Regions from separate parts of the Homo sapiens genome. Here region 1 is linked to region 2. The links come from fine-mapping of genetic effects on gene expression. A gene starts in region 2. The other region holds a variant in brackets. All regions are shown on one strand. Distances are from middle to middle.

Region 1 (8,251 bases), 39 kb after region 2:
ATATTTTAATTAGCCACAGAGGCGGGTTTTTTTTTAAGTGGCCACAGGCCTCTACAGAGGCCTGGGTTGGAGGTGAGAAGCTTGCTCACTGCCTGGGGCTGCAGCCGCTTACTGAGCTGGGGCAAGAAGGCTGGCAGCTGCCAGGGGTGATCAGGAGCAGGACTGAGCGGGATTCCCTGCAGCGGAGGCAGGGGAGGGGTGAGACAGTCCCCTCTCAGCCCCCGAGCTGCCGGGCGGACTCCGGGCCTCCTTCCTCCGTCTCCATCCCCTCCCTTGCTGGCCAGCCAGTTGATAAACATTGAATTTGGAAGATGCCTTGGGATGGAGGAGGACCAGTGCCCAGGCCTGCAGCCCACCCTCCCGCTGGGAGGCCCCTGAGAGCACTGGGGTGCTGCTGCCCTGTTTCTGGGGACGCTTGGCTTCCCTACCAGCCACCGTCTCCTGCCCTCCATCAGCTCGGCTCTAGCCTCGGGGCCTCTCGGGGTGGTGTCCCCGGTGACGTGCCTGCCTGCCTGCCTGCCGTCAGAGAGCTGGCGGGGCTGAGGGAAGGAAGCCTGCCTCCCTGGCAGGCAAGCAGGCGGCGGGCGCGGAAGCACCAGCTTTCACGTCTCTGGCAGAGCCCCACTCCGGCTGCCTGCTGCCTGGGGGATGTCCAGGGGCCGGCCCCCGGCTTCCGAGAGGGACAGCGTGCGTGGGTGTGGGGGCTCCGGTAGCCCGGCAGCCCTCTGTGGCCCTGGCCCAGGAGAGTGCAGGTTTTCTGGGAGGGCTGGGAGGAGGCGGCCAGGAGTGAGGACAGGGAATTGTGAGCAGTGTGGGGGCACCACTGTGGGGAACAAAGCCCCCCGCCCCTGCCTGAAACCTGCGTCCTGGCCCTGGGCATCAGGGCTGGCCCTGCCCTGGTGTCCTCACACAGTCACTTCTGTGTGCGGTCCGCGTCCTCAGGTCATGAGGAAGGTCACCCTGGGCTAGGCCCACCTTTGATGTCACGGTCACCTCACTTATCTCTTCAAAGGCTCTGCTGTTTGGGCTTCCTTCCATTGGCTTTGGCAGGGCAAGCCTGGCTCCTAACACCCTCCGTTTGTTGGAGCTCTCAGGCTGCCTCTGGGGACCGTCTGCCAGGACACAGGCCACCCTTGCTGCCTGGTTCCCCACTCCCCAAGCCACTCACCTGGCAGGGCGTGACTGGCACTTCTGGCCTGAGTGCCTGCTGGGCGCCCGCCCCTAGCCAGTTCTGTCGTCCTTCCTTTCCACCCAGGACAGCCCCGTCCTGCACTGCCGTGTCGCCCACTGCCGGGGCCTCTCTGGGACCAACAGGCCCCCTTCCTTCCACCCACCAGGCCCTACCCCACCTGGACCCTCTGAAATGTTCCTCGTTGACAAATGGTCTTGCAGAAGGCAGGATGGCTCCTGCAGCCCCCACTCCCGCTCTGTGGGTGGATGCCCCGTCTCTCCCTGCCCAGGCACCGTGGTGCCTTCTCTCTCCCGGGCACCGTGGTGCCACCTCCCTCCCAGACACCATGATGCTGCCTCCCTCCCGGGCTCTGTGGTGCCATCTCCCTGCCGAGGCACTGTGGTGCCGCCTTCCTCCCGGGCACGGTGGTGCCGCCTCCCTCCCAGGCGCTGTGGTGCCGCCTCCCTCCCGGGCGTCTTGAGCTGCAAGGGCTCCTCTCTTGGCTTCGTTCCCCGGAGGGTGGTGCTGTTCTCGTTGGAGGGGGCGGCCAGGCGCTGGGCCACGTGTGCATGCAGCCCCTACAGAGTTGCTGCCCCGTGGGGGTTGACGTGGGCCTCCTTTCGGAAGCTCTTCCTGGCAACACTGAGTGGGGCAAGGGGTTGGCAGCAGAGAGGCGGCTGGATTTGGGGCCCCAGTGTCCTGGGCGGCAGCTAGGGAGGGGCCGGCTCCAGGCCCTCAGGCTGTGTCAGGGCAGGGCGGGCACCCCCACTTCTCCCTGTCAGCCGAGGGAGCCAGGCAGGGGCAGCCTGAGACATCCTGGGACAGTGCTGGTGGGGAGAGGCCCCTCAGCCTGTGCCTCCCTCAAAGGCCCTTCCCGGGCCCTGCTCTGGCTGGGGGGACGGTGTGACCCACTTTCCCTTTCCAGCCCCAGCTTGGTGACCGGGTGGCTCCATTCACCCTGGGTCCCTCGCTGAAACGGTGCCTGGGACCAGAGCAGAGAACACGCTTGCCAGTGGTAGGAGATGGAGGCGACGTGGACTCTGGGAGGCTTCTTTTTTGGGGTCCATCCAGAGGCCGAGCCTCTCCAAGCACTGGTCAGCCTCCATGCCACCCAGTCTGCCGACCCTCCTCTCCACCATCCCCTCGTCCGAGCAGTGGCGATCCCTCCCGAGTCAAGGCTGGGCACAAGCACGTGGGGACAGGCCGGGTAGGCTGCCTGGCTCAGTGCTCCCTGCACAGAGGCGCAGACAGGGAGCCCAGGTGCCCCAGGCCTGGCTGCCAAGCCTACTTCCCTCTCCTGGTGTTCCCGAGTCCTGCCCGCCCCTTTCTGTGCGTCCCGTGGGGCAGTGCTGGTTGGGGGTCCTGGCCTGTGGGGGCTATGATGAGAACCAGGTGCCTCTCTGCATCGGTGGCCTCTGAGGGAGCCCTCTCGCCCGGCAGCAGGTGGGATGCAGATGGGGCTGGCCAGGGCTCCTGTGCCCACAGCAGCCTCTGGGCAGTGTCCCCTGGGCTTCTGTGAGCAGCCGCAGCCTGGGTGTGAATCTTGGAGGCCCGGTGGTGGCGGAGCATGCTCTCCATCTGGGAGAGGCTGAGACCATGGCAGCTCCTGGCGCTGTCCTCCCCGTGCCCCCTTCCTGGCTCCCCAGCTTCCGGCGCCTCTCCAGGGCCACTCGGGCAGCCCCTGCCCACCCCACAGGCCCTTCTCTGCTCACAAGGCTTTGATCCCAGGCGGCACAATTGGGTTTTCAAAGCATTCACGGCCCTTGTTTGTGTCCCTGGGCCCCCGGCTGGAGGCTGAGGTTTCGGCGTTCCTGGGCCTGGCCTTTGAAGCTTCCTCTTATTAATCTTTTAACATCCCCCAGCCCCACTCCCACCCCCAGCCTGTGGCCCTGAGCAGCCTGGAGCCGGGAGGGGGAATCTGGAGCTGGGAGGGGGATACCCCAGCCTGGCAGCTGCACCCCTCCACGGTGGTCCCGGCGCATCCGCCAGGACCCGCCACGCCTGGCCCCACCTTCCTCGGGTGCAGAGGCCAGAGGAGGGAGGACGGTGATGCTGCATGGCTTGAGGACCCTCGAGGCCCCAGCCTTCAGCTGGCTTGGGGCTTGGGGTGGTCCCATGGAGGGCGCTGGTCCCAGGACGCCCTGGCCTTGCTTACAGGGGTAGGGCTGGTGTCAGACAGGAAGCTGGGCGATGGGCTCATGGGGGCCGGGCAGGCAGAGCCTGTCTGAGGGTGGAGCTGGGGCCTGGCCCTGGGGGTGTAGCTGCCTTCACAGCAGGGGGGTGCTCTGCCCACACCCGGCCCCTGAGCCCCCCGCCCTCCCTGCAGGCGAACCTCTTCCCGGCCGCTCTGGTGCACTTGGGAGCCGAGGAGCCGGCAGGTGAGTGTCAGTGGTTGGGGCCAGTGTCGGAGTCCAGCCAGCCTGTCCCTGGACCTCAGAGCCAGCTGCCCGGGAGGGCGTTCGGTCTGGGGCCTCCTTTGGGTCTGAGAGGGAGATCTGCGGCCCCCAGTAACCACCTCCCCGAGAGAGGACTGGGACAGCCACCTGCTGGCCACCCCCCTCCCAGAGCTGAGTGCTGGTGGGCAGATGCTGGGTGGATGGTGAGTGGACCCCTCCTCAGAGGCTCAGGGTGAGCTTGGGCCTCCCTGCAGGTGTCTACCTGGAGCCTGGCCTGCTGGAGCATGCCATCTCCCCATCTGCGGCCGATGTGCTGGTGGCCAGGTAAGTGCCGGTGGGTCTGGGGGCACCTCCCGTGGCGGCACTCACCACTCTGTGTCTTCGCCTCCCCAC[A/G]GGTACATGTCCAGGGCCGCCGGGTCCCCTTCCCCATTGCCAGCCCCTGACCCTGCACCTAAGTCTGAGCCAGCTGCTGAGGAGGGGGCGCTGGTCCCCCCTGAGCCCATCCCAGGGACGGCCCAGCCCGTGAAGAGGAGCCTGGGCAAGGTGCCCAAGTGGCTGAAGCTGCCGGGTACTGCGGCTGGGTGGAAGGTGGGGTGCTGTGGCCGGGTGGAGGGCGGGGGTCCGGGTGCTGTGGCAGGGTCAGTGGGCTGGGGGGCTAGGTGCTGTGGCCGGCAGGGCCGAGTGCTTCAGCCGGGCTGGTGGGCGGGTGGCCGGGTGGTGAGAGCCCGGGGTGTGTGGTCACCCTGATGTGTCTGCACTACAGCCAGCAAGAGGTGAGAGCTGCCAGCCTGAGGTGCCCACTCCGCCAGCCACAGGACCACCTCCTCTGCCAGCAGGAATAAAGACTTGTGCATCCCTCAACGCCTTCCTGTCATGCTTCCTCCAGAAAAGGGCCCCCGTCGTCTGCCCTGGCTCAGCTGGACCGCAGTGTCCAGGCCTGAGAGCCTGGTGGACCATGGTGTGGGCCCCTGAGGAGCCTGGTGGACCGTGGTGTGCATCCTGAACCCGCGTGGGTCTCCTCTTCGTTTTTAACCTAACAGTTATTTACACTTCCTCCAAGGAGAACAGAAGTGCTTGAGGAAAGTCTTTTGGGGGAAATCACCTGCAACCCAGGAGCCAAGCCCTGGGCCAGGAGCTGGGGGAGGAGCTAGTAGGTCACCCCACATCCGTAGGGCAGGGCCTGGCCTCAGGCCTCCTGCTGCCCCCGAGCGGGCTATAGTGCTGGGTTCTGGCCCTGGTCCACCCTGCAGCCAGCCTCCCCAGCAAGTCTGATGACTTCTACAGGCTCCCAGGGCTTTCAAACTGACCTACTGAGGTGGGCAGGGCGGGGAAGGGGTGGATCCCAGCAGCCCTGCCTGCCCGGGGCCACTGGGGCTACATCGAGGATGAAGAGGCTCGCCTCAAAGTTGTCTTCGGGCACCAGGGCAGGAGAGAGGCTGGGTCGCCTCCGATGGTTCCCAGGGGCAGCTTTTGTGCTTCCCACCCTGGGGCCTGACTCCCTACCCTTTCCCCTCCCTGCACGGGGCTCCAGGATGGCGCTCAGCTGAGAGCCCCTGGGGTGCTTCCAGTCCTGGGCTCTGACAAGAGAGAGAACGTGAGGTGGGCTGGAGGGGAAGTGGTCCAAGGCCCTGCCCGCTTCCCAAGCGTTGGCACAAGTGGGGCTTATGCCAGAGGCCCCTGAGAGTCAGAGGGCAGCCAGACCTGGGTGGGGCATCCAGACAGGTCCCACAGCCCTGCGTCTCCAAGGGTGGGCAGGGGGCGTGGCCCGAGGGGGCTGACCTGCACCTCTCTGGCACTGCTTGGGAAAAGAGGAGGCCTTCATTTCAGCAGGGCCTTGGGCCAGGGTCCCTCTCACCCTGTGCATCCTGGTCCTGCCTGTGACCACAGGAACATTCGTGGAAGCCACTGCCCACTGGTGGCAGCCCCCGTGGCTGCCCCAACCCCTGGGGTAGGAATAACATTTCCCAGGCAGGTGGCCACATGTACGTGGTCCGGGCTCCACAGCGCCTGGGGGTGGGGCCGAGGCACTCGCACACATGCTGTTTGTTAGTGCATCCTCCTGGCGCTTTGCTTTCTTACCAGGAGTGGAAGGGCACACACGGGAAGTGCAGCTTTGAAGCAGTTTGACTTTGGTGATTAATGGCAAGAAAGCCAAGCTGGGAGAGACAGTTTTGATTTATTGATGTTGCTTTGTGAGAACAAATTTATAGCCTGGGGAAGCATCTTCCAAGGGGAATATCGCATGGCTGGAAAGGTCACACGCCAGCTTTGATGTCGGGTGGCAGGAATGTGGGCAGGAGGCAGCGCTGCCAGCTGCTGTTTGTCAAACACACAGGCTACCTGCTGGCCAGGCCTTTCCCAGCACCTGCCTGTAGGACCCCGGGTGGCATGCACACTATTGTCCCAGGGAGGAGAGGCAGGGACTCCCCAGGTGCTGCCCCTTCCCACACCAGTGTCCCCACTGGACACTCCAAGGCCCGCAGTGCACTGCAGTCCTGCCCCTTCTGCACAGGCTGGAGACTCCCAGAGATCTTGTTTGAATCAACTCCAAATCCTTCAGGTCCTTCCCTGCCTCTTATCAGAGGCCGCTGGAAACACAAGGCCTGCTTCTGTGGACCAGGGGCTCCTCTGGGGGTGGCCTCAGCCACGGCTGAGATCCCTAGAAGTCCAGGAGCTGTGGGGAAGAGAAGCACTTAGGGCCAGCCAGCCGGGCACCCCCACTTGCGCCCCGACCCACGCTCACGCACCAGCTGCGGAAGCACCTTCTCCAGCTGGTCCACGTCCACACGGAGCGCGTCTTCTGCCTGGGCCTGCCGCACGCCGCGGACTGCTGCTTCTGCGGTGAGAAACGCGAGAGGTGGGGGATGCTGGGGGGATCTTAAACCCGAGCCCAGTGAGGGCCTCAGCCTGGGCCGGTGCCCCCCCCAACACCCACGGGCAGCCCCCAGAACCAGGCCACAGCACCTGACAAACAGGCTCAGGAGACCCAAGTTTAGGCCCTTGTGGGAAACGGGAAAACACGTCTTGGTTTTCCCGCTGGAAAAACGCAAAATTCCGGATGCTGTGCCCGGAGGGAGCGTGGGCCCTGGGCTCACCCACAACGAAGACCTTCAGCAACTCCACCATGAGCTGCAGCGCGTCCCCGCTCACTGCAAGGCAGGGGGAGGTTATGCGGGACCCTCACCCACCGCTCTGGCTGGGTGCTCCAGACATACCCCCGCCCTCCCGAGGCCTTGGCCCTGCAGAGTTGCAGGAAAGGGTCCCTGAGGACAGACACGGGGACCCACCTCCCGCCCGCACCCCCACCCGCACCTTTGGTCTTGTCATCCTTGAAGTGCAGGTGCAGCAGCCTGCTCACCAGCTCCTAGAAGGGAGGGGGGTGTCAGCGCCACGCCCCGCCCTCCCCCCCGCACCCCCCAGGGTGGTGACCATTCTGGTGACAGTGGCTGTGACTTCTGGCTGGAGACGCCCTCTGTGCCTGAGCCTCTCCCAGGGCAGGGGACAAGGGCCAGCCTAGTGCTTCGGGTGGCAGAAGCTGAAGCAGATGCGTGGGCAGCTCCACTAGGGGGCGCCAGGGCCCTGCACAGGGTCTGGGCTGGGAGCCTCCCTACGGCGTGAGTGGTCGCAGACACGGGAGCAGGCCCCGCTGCTGGGGCTCCAGGGAGAGAGTGGAGAAAGGCCTCGTCGAGTCCGGCCTAATCTTGCACTCCCATCCCCGGCAGAGGGCCATGGCTCTGCTCTCCTTGTGGGGAGGCAGGGAAGGCAGAGCCCGGGTTGGGTCTGGAGGCTGGAGGTGGCTGCTCTGCAGGTGGGCTGGCCTGAGGGAGTGCCACCAGTAGGGCCTTCCTTGTGCCAACTCTGTTCTGGGTGCTGGGTCAGCTCCGCCCGTCTTGCCCTGGTGCTCATGATCCTGCAGGAGGTGCTGGTGTCCTGGGAGCGCAGAGCGGGGCTGCGCCAGCGTGGTCCACAGGCTGGAGTGAGGGGTGGGCCAGACGCTGAGGGCCCAGGGCATGATGAGCTCTCCGTGTCTCCATGGCAGGAAACTGGGAGTCCTCTCTAGGTTTTTGTGGAAAGCAGCACTGGCGTTGGAAAGGACCACTCTGGCTGCCATGCCCGGGGTGGGGGGAAGGGAGGGGGCTGCAGAGCCAGGGCCTTTCTGCCTTTCTGATGGATGGAGGACGGGGACAAGGGAGGAGTCTACGCCAAGACCCCAAAAGGACGGCACTGCTCTGAGGAGATGGGGGGCCGTGGGCAAGTGCATTTTGGAGCTAGGACACAGGAGATCAGTTTGGGATGCGTTGTGTGTGAACACAGGAGTGGTGGGTGGCAGCTGCAGTGGTGGCGGCCGAGACTCAGGAGGGCAGCCCTGGGTGGCTGGTGGAGCCATGAGACTCAGTGAGGTGGCCCAGGCCAGGCACCGGCCCACAGCCGCCGGGAAAGGAGCCAGCACGGAGAGTCCAGGACTGGGGGTGGGGGCAGTGGGCACCCAGGAGCCCAGAAACAGGCCACTAAAAGGGCAGGTGGGTGAACTACCAGCCAGGCCACCAGCATCGGCCACAGGGAGGTCACAGCACCTCACCCAGAGCAGTCCAGCAGGTGACAAGCAGAGCATGGACGGGTGAAGCCCTAAGATGCAGATGGTGAAGAATGTTCCCCAGCAGCGGGCAGCAGGGTCCAGCATCCC
Region 2 (8,311 bases):
CAGGGACATGCCACCATGCCTAGCTAACCTTTGTATTTTTTGTAGAGCTGGGGTCTCACTATGTTGCCTAGGGTGGTCTCAAACTCCTAGGCTCAAATGATCCTCCTACTTTGGCCTCCCAAAGTGCTGGGATTATAGGTGTAAGCCACTGTGCCTGGCCAGAAAAAGTTTTTACATGTATATGGAGAGAGAGAAAGAGAATATGATAAAACAAATGGGGTGACATGTAAACACTGATTTATCTGGCTAAAAGATATACAGGAGGCTGGGCGTGGTGGCTCACACCTGTAATCCCAGCACTTTGGGAGGCTGAGGCGGGTGGATCACGAGGTCAGGAGATTGAGACCATCCTGGCTAACATGGTGAAACCCCATGTCTACTAAAAATACAAAAAATTAGCCGGGCATGGTGGCAGGTGCCTGTAGTCCCAGCTACTCGGGAGGCTGAGGCAGGAGAATGATGTGAACCCGGGAGGCGGAGCTTGCAGTGAGCCGAGATTGCACCACTGCACTCCAGCCTGGGCAACAGAGCGAGACTCCGTCTCAAAAAACAAAACAAAACAAAACAACAACTAGCTGGGTGTGGTGCTGCACACCTGTAGTCCCAGCTACTCGGGAGGCTGAGGCAGAAGAATCGCTTGAACCCGGGAGGCAGAGGTTGCAGTGAGCTGAGATTTCGCCACTGCACTCCAGCCTGGCGACAGAGGGAGACTCCATCTCCAAAAAAAAAAAAAAAAAAAAAAGATATACAGCAGGAATTCTTGCTTTTGCAAACTTTTCTTCTCTTTCTTCCTTCCTCCTCCCTCTTCTTCTTTCTTCTCCTTCTCCTTTTTTGAGACGGTATCGTACTACGTTGCTCGGGCTGGGGTGCAGTAGTTATTCATAGGCATGAATAGTGGTTCACTAAGGCTGGAACTTAAGTAATTCTCCTGCCTCGGCCACCGGAGTAGCTAAGACTACAGGTGTGAGCCACCTTGCTCGGCTAAGTTTGAAATAATATCAGGATAAAAGATCATCCCTCCTATCAAAAAAAGCATAGGAGCCAGCTTAAAGGAGGTCTCACTGGCCAAATTCGGACCAATTTGAGCATCAAAAAGAATGCTGACTGAATGAAAAAAATACATGAATTCATATTAATAAATATATATATTTCAAGATGGGGTTTCACTCTTGTCGCCCAGGCTGGAGTGCAATGGTGCGATCTTGGCTCGTTGCAACCTCCATCTCCCAGGTTCAAGTGATTCTCCTACCTCAGTGTCCCGAATAGCTGGGATTACAGGCACGCACCGCCATGCCCGGCTAATTTTTGTACTTTTTTTTTAAGTAGAGACAGGATTTCACCATGTTGGCCAAGATGGTCTCAATCTCTTGACCTTGTGATCTGCCCAACTCAGCCTCCCAAAGTGCTGGGATTACAGGCGTGAGCCACCGCGCCTGGCCATATTTAATTTTTTTTTTTTTTTTTTTTTTGAGACAGAGTCTTGCTCCGTCTCCCAGGCTGGAGTACAGTGGCGTGATCTCAGCTCACTGCGAGCTCTGCCTCCCGGATTCACGCCATTCTCCTGCCTCAGCCTCCCAAATATTTAATAACTTTTTAAAGAAGGGGAAGCTTGACCGAAAGTGACTATAAATGTAGAAGAAACAATAAACTTGGGAAGCCATGATTTTGCAGCTTTACGGTTTAACACTGAATCTACTCATTAACTGATGCTAAAACTGTTGGGCAAATGGTTATTGGGAAAACTTGATGCTTGTGGTCTCAGAGAATGACCTCACGCATGCCTTAATTACTCCACAAGGAGCCACGGACCTTGACCATGGAGGAATTCAGCAGACCCAAAGCTGACCAAGTGGTTCAACTTCACGTCCTCACTCATGGCCACGCTGATGTCCTGCACCTCCTGCTGACTTGTCACCTCCCTTCATCATTGCCCCAAACGTTTAACCAAGGATCCAGACTGTGGGACAGTCTAAGGAAAATAGGAACAGACTCTTCAAAAACGCCACTAAAGAATTAAAACCCACCAGGTGATGTGTGGCTCAGTAAGGTTCTGAGGTTGCACAGAGCATGGGACTGGCTGGCTGGATGGGAGGGCTATGGCTAGCCTGGGGCTTTCCCCAGGTTTCTCCAATGTACATAGATGTCCGTGTTTGTCAGCATACAGGTGTGTGTGGGTGACATGGATATGTCATCGACAGGAAGGCACAACAGCACCCATGCAGAGATGTCCTTAGACTCAGCAATGACTGCCGGGTGCGGTGGCTCACGTGTGTAATCCCAGCCCTGTGGGAGGATTGACTGATAACTGCACCAGTTCCCCCTTCCACAGGCTACTGGGCAGCTGAGCCCTAGCCAGGAGTCCGCAGAGACAGGCAGGCACATGGAGAGAGGAGTGCCAAGGCCCGGCTGAGCCATGGAGGTGGGGGGCGGGGCGGAACACGTGCGAGTGCTGTCCATGAGTGGCCCAGGTGCTGGGAGCTAAGCACATTCGACGGCTGCGAGTCAGGAGGGCAGCTCCTTCTGGAAGCCTGGAGCTGGTGAGGCCAGGTGCTTTCCCTGCTGCGGTGGCTGGCGATGGGAGTGTTTCCTGAGGCTGCCACCAAGCCCCTCCTCAGCATGGGTTGGTGCGGGAAGTCCTTGAGTGCCTGTGGGTCGGCAGGAGCTCCGGTGAGACTCAAGTTCGCTCACCCCACGGTTCTGAAACCGGTCTCCCGCCTTTCCTACCCTCAGGTTTAGGGACCGTCGCGGCAGCCCTAGGGCTGCCAGATTCTGCACTCCCATTTTAGGATGAAAGAAATCAGGTCTAGACTGAGGGCCACGAGTCCCAACACCCAGGGAGGATCCGTACAGGGGCGGGGGGACTGCCCCAAACCATAAGGTCAGGAGGTGGACGCTGACCACAGGGACAGGTGGGCAGGGAAGAGGCTCAGCTGCTGGAGTGGAGGAAGCCGGGAGGGTCGGGGGAGAGCAGGGCACCGAGCTGGGGACGTGTCAGGGACGAAGCGAGGGTGGGCGAGCGCGGACCGCTGGGACCCCGGGGCTCAGTGCCGCTCACCGGGGGTGACCGCGCGCCCAGCCCCGGCCCAGCCTGGCCCCGGCGAGCCCATCCAAGCCGCGCTTCCCGGAGGCAGAGGACGACCGCGCTTTCCGGGTCTGGCGCGGGCTTTGGCGGCCCAAGGGCGGGGCCGGGGCGCCGTGGGTGGGGAAAGGGCGGGGCCTGGCAGGACCCGGAAGTGCGCTGCGGCCCCGCCCCCTGGCCGCGTGGCTGCGCGTCCTGGCTGTTGCCGATAAAGTTGTTTGACGCCGGCCCGGCGGCGGGTCACGTGAGCGGAAAATGGCGGCCCCGGCAGGCGGCGGAGGCTCCGCGGTGTCGGTGCTGGCCCCGAACGGCCGGCGCCACACGGTGAAGGTGACGCCGAGCACCGTGCTGCTTCAGGTGCGGCCGCCCGCCCGGGGCGGACGGGTAGGCGGGCGGGGGGCGCTGCGCCGAGGCCCCGCCCATTGCGGTCGGCGTCCCGGTGTTCGGGGGCGGGGCCTCGGCGGCCAATGAGCGGCCTCCTGAGCGGCGGCCCCGCCCCCTGCTCGCCGTCACCTGCGCTTCCGCTGGGGTCCCGGGGGTCCCGGGGGTCCCGAGTGGGGGCGGGGCGGTGGCGAGCCTTCCCAGGGGTGAGGTAGAACGGCGCCGCGTGTCACCCGCATCGAGTACTCGGCGCCCGGCCGAGCCCAGCTCGCGAGGGCGCCGGGAAGAGGGAGGAGTGGAGCCCTAGACCCGCGTTCCCATTCCGGGGCGTCCCCCGGAGCGGGAGCCCGGGTTGCGCGGTGGCAGATGTCCCGGCCGTGGGGCCTGGAAGCGATTTTTGCCGAGTCACTCACTGCACTTTTACTTGGGCACCTTGTGACCGCGAATCAATTAAATGTAAAAGTATTGGCTGGGCGCGGTGGCTCACGCCTGTAAATCCCAGCACTGTGGGATGCCGAGGCGGGTGGATCACGAGGTCAAGAGATCAAGACCATCCTGGCTAAAACGGTGAAACCCCGTCTGTACTAAAAAAATACAAAAAAATTTAGCCGGGCGTGGTGGCGGGCGCCTGTAGTCCCAGCTACTCGGGAGGCTGAGGCAGGAGAATGGCGTGAACCTGGGAGGCAGAGCTTGCAGTGAGCCGAGATCGCGCTACTGCACTCCAGCCTGGGAGACAGAGCGAGACTCCATATCAAAAAAAAAAAAAAAAAGTATTTATTGAGCCTCTGCTGCGTGGGGGACCGTGAGGATCCGAAGGTGCACACGACTCGGAGTTTGCGGGAGCAGCCCACGGCGTGGGGTCCCCAGGCCTGGGCAGGTGGAGGGCGCAGCCAGGAGGCTGTTGGTGCCAGGCGTGCAGAGTGCGGAAGTGGGGCGCTCCCGCAGAGGCTGCGCGGGACCCCTTGGTGCAAGGCCACGGCTTTGGCTTTTTATGGAGAAGAGGGGCGGAGGCGGTGCAGGCAGTGGCAGCAGGTGCACAGAACCGTGCCAGAGCCAGGGGGTAGCTTGTGCTAGGCAAGTTTAAGGCAGGTTGCAGAACTACAGGGTTTGAAGGAGAGCCCAGGGTGTGTGCCAGGAAGATGCCCGTGTTGCTGTACTGCAGGGGAACTCTGAGTGGAGCTTTCCTACAAAACTGAGGGGATGGTGAAGAAGGGAGGGAGAGTGGACAGGATTTGCAGGTGAGAGCCTGCATTTGTTGCGGGGACCGTCCATAGTGTGGTCTTGTGCTTGGCTTTGCCTGGGCAGAGCCACCTGGCTCACCAGGAAGCTGAATGCCCTTGGCTGACCTGGCCCACTGCGCCCGCCAGCCCTGCACACTCAGCAGTTCACCATCCTTTCATCTCACCCCCAGGTTCTGGAGGACACGTGCCGGCGGCAGGACTTCAACCCCTGTGAATATGATCTGAAGTGAGTTTGCTCCAGCTCAGCAGCAGGGTCTGAGTATATCTGTGCCCCTGCCCCCTGAACATACTGGCTCTCACTTGGAAAAGCCCCCAGGTGGTTTTAAACAGTCATATATTCCCTCCCAACTCTGGAGACCCAAGGCCTTGGCAGGGCCACACTCTCTCCAAATGCCCTAAGGGAGAATCCCTCCTGCCTCTTCCAGCTTCTCATGGCTCCAAGCGTTCTGTGGCTTGTGGCCGCATTGCTCTCTGCCTCCGATTTCTTGTGGCCTTTTCCTGTTTTCTCTGTGTCTCAGGAAGACCCTTGTCATTGGATTTAGGGTCCACTTGGATAATCTAGAACGATTTATCATTACATCTTCAAAGACCAGGATCCCTAGTAAGATGTTCAGAGGTCCTGGGGGTGAGGACATTGACCCATCTTTTTTGGGGGGGCCACCATTCAACCCCCTGTAGGTTTTATTGCATTGAGTTGCATAAGTTCCCAGTGGGGCTCTGAGGGGAAAGAGCTGGCCGTGGAGAAATAGGATGCCTTGAAAACTGCAGGTGGATCCCTGCAGTCTCACAGCCCCTGGAATTACACGTACGCTTCTGTGTGGGGATATTGTTCCCAAGAGAGGGCTTCTGCCAGACTCTCAAGGAGTCTGAGACAGCAGAAGGGTCAGAGCCCTCATATGGATAGGATGTGCGTGTCTATCCCACACGCGAAGCTTTTCACTTTAAAGTCCTGTTTTCTGGTGTTTTTTTTGTTTTGTTTTGTTTTTGAGACAGGGTTTCACTCTTGTCGCCCAGGCTGGAGTGCAGTGGCACGGTCTTGGCTCACTGCAACCTCCACCTCCTAGGTTCAAGTGATTCTCCTGCCTCAGCCTCCCGAGTAGCTGAGATTAGAGGTGCTCACCAACACACCCAGCTAATTTTTATATTTTTAGTAGAGATGGGGTTTCACCACATTGGCCAGGACGGTCTAGAACTCCTGACCTTGTGATCCGCCTGCCTTGGCCTCCCAAAGTACTGGGATTACAGAGATGAGTCACCATGCCTGCCCTTGAAGACCTGTTTTTACAGTACTGTTGTCCTAACACTGGGGGCAGAGGGCAGGAGCTTGCCCTCCTGGCATTGCCCACCCTGCCTTACGAGGCTCTCCTGGGAGGAGTTTCTTAGGGGTGATACCTGCCAAGTCATTCCAGTCTTCTACCTTGTGTCTGGACCACGTGAGAATCCCAGGACCTGTGCTCTGAATGCCAGGTGGTCTTGGGCTTTCTGCCCCAGACCTTCACACCATCCTTCTCCAGTCTCTCTTGTCAACTGAAGAATGCGGTTCATATGTTTGGAAAGGAGGGCTTTATTTCTCATAACCGGTTGCAGCTTGCAGGGTGGCCATTCTAACAGGCTGGGAAGTGTAGCCTCCAGCCAGAAGCTGGAAACAGACACTTCAAGAGAGGGAAGAATAAGACAGGGATTTACACCGAATGGGGTGGCTGATACAGACGTACTTAATACGCTGTAGGAGGATCATGAGTATTCATGAAAGGAGAACTGTGCACACAGTTGAGCTTCCTGCCTCTTCACGGGTCCTATGTGCAAAAAATGGCAGTGCCAGCATGACCTGAGGGTGGAATTTTTGGCCTCTGAAGTCAGAGGTGAAGCAGGCTGGGTGAAGTGGCTCATGCCTGTAATCCTAGCACTTTGGGTGCCCGAGGCGGAGGATTGCCTGAGCCCAGGAATTCGAGATCAGCCTGGGGAACATAGTGAGACCCTGTCTCTACAAAAAAAGTAAATAAGTAAATAAATAAATAAATGGCAAATCAGAGGACATGAAGACTGTGCCACGAAAACCCTGACTGTGCCAGAACCACTCCATGGTTGGTGGTTTCTTATCAGGAAATACCTGTGGGTTGTTTTGAAGAAACCGCAAGAGAGAAGGGCCTGGCGGGAGGTTGGCTGATGTCAGATACCAGCCCAGGGGTCTTTGGAAAGGGCTGCTTTCTGTTTATCCCTTAGGGAAGAGAGCCTGCAGATGTGTCTGATCTCCCACCCAGCCATGGCCAGGAACTCAGCTTTCAAGGTTTCTGGGGTCCCCTGGGCCAAGAGGAGGCTGGTTCAGTTGGTTGGGGGGGGCTTAGGGTTTCATTTTTATTTCTTTTTTATTTTATTATTTTTTGAGGTGGAGTCTCGCTCTGTCACACAGGCTGTAGTACAGTGGCGCTATCTCGGCTCACTGCAACCTCTGTCTCCCAGGTTCAAGTGATTCTTCTGCCTCAGCCTCCCGAGTAGCTGGGATTACAGGCGTGCGCCATCATGCCCAGCTAATTTTTGTATTTTTAGTAGGGACGGGGTTTCACCATGTTGGTCATGCTGGTCTTCAAGTCCTGACCTCAGGTGATCTGCCCGCCTTGGTCTTCCAAAGTGTTGGGATTACAGGCATGAGTCACTGTGCCTGGCCATTTTTCTGAAACAGAGTCTTGCTCTGTCACCTAGGCTGGAGGGCAGTGGCATGATCTCAGCTCACCGCAACCTCTGCCTCCCGGGTTCAAGCGATTATTGTGCCTCAGCGTCTTGAGTAGCTGGAATTACAGGCACGTGCCACGCCTGGCTAATTTTTGTATTTTTAGTAGTGACGGGGTTTCACCATGTGGACCAGGCTGGTCTCAAACTCCTGACCTCAAGTGATCCGCCCGTCTTGGCCTCCCAAAGTGCTGGGATGATAGGCGTGAGCCACTGCACCTGGCCTCATTTTTCTTTCTTTTTTTTGAGACGGAGTCTCGCTCTGTCGCCCAGGCTGGAGTGCAATGGCGCGATCTTGGCACACTGCAACCTCCGCCTCCCGGGTTGAAGCACTCCTCCCACTTCAGCCTCCCGAGTAGCTGGGACTACAGGCCTGTGCCACCATGCCTGGCTAATTTTTGTATTTTTAGTAGAGACGGAGTTTCACCACATTGGCCAGACTGCTCTCAAACTCCTGACCTCAAGTGATCTGCCCGTCTGGGCCTCCCAAATTGCTGGGATTACAGGCATGAGCCACCGCGCCCAGCGCATTGTTACTTCTCAGTGTTCACCTGCCCGTGGTCTGTGTGGTGGTGTCTGGTGGGAACCAGTGAGTGCGATTTTGAGGCAGGTCCTGCAATACCATAGCCATGTTTTCAGGTGCCCTTTTCCTCTGCTAATGGTACCACTTGCTTACAAAGTGCAGCCGGTGCAGAGGAATGCAGCCCCAGGCGTGAACAGTGCCCTCCGCTCCAAGGTTCCCAGCCTGCCTGCCCTCGGGATCCCCCGATCTGCTATCCTGTCTTGACGTAGACATTTCATGTGGCAATTTCCAGACTCACTTTTCTGGCCAGTGTTGATATAGCAAAGTTTGTTCTCTCTTAATTCTTCCAGATGCCCCTGG

The links. PIP is the estimated chance that this variant, and not a neighbour inherited with it, causes the effect.
Region 1: its variant is fine-mapped to the expression of ASPSCR1 in whole blood (TOPMed, PIP above 0.99).

What each region holds. Positions count from the first base shown.
Region 1 is chr17:82,012,979-82,021,229 of GRCh38, forward strand. It overlaps ASPSCR1 (ASPSCR1 tether for SLC2A4, UBX domain containing), which reads left to right. Exons shown (of 16, transcript NM_024083.4): 13 at 3,498-3,549; 14 at 3,822-3,891; 15 at 3,963-4,135; 16 at 4,331-4,428. The coding sequence ends at 4,344. It overlaps CENPX (centromere protein X), which reads right to left. Exons shown (of 5, transcript NM_001271006.2): 2 at 6,880-6,931; 3 at 6,663-6,716; 4 at 6,315-6,403; 5 at 5,725-6,241. The coding sequence ends at 6,227. Among named protein-coding and RNA genes, the nearest start is that of CENPX, 5.8 kb to the right of the region's middle. RefSeq lists enhancers at 2,019-2,740, 3,464-4,185, 8,155-8,251 and a silencer at 2,695-2,989. The variant A/G (reference allele first, on the strand shown) is at 3,961.
Region 2 is chr17:81,974,313-81,982,623 of GRCh38, forward strand. ASPSCR1 (ASPSCR1 tether for SLC2A4, UBX domain containing) reads left to right here and starts at 3,317. Exons shown (of 16, transcript NM_024083.4): 1 at 3,317-3,436; 2 at 4,872-4,927. The coding sequence starts at 3,335. LOC124904087 (a long non-coding RNA gene) reads left to right here. Exons shown (of 2, transcript XR_007065951.1): 2 at 1,799-2,023. It overlaps LOC105371939 (a long non-coding RNA gene), which reads right to left and starts at 3,173. Exons shown (of 2, transcript XR_933953.4): 1 at 3,056-3,173; 2 at 1,656-2,645. RefSeq lists enhancers at 1,929-2,702, 2,703-3,474 and a silencer at 2,953-3,812.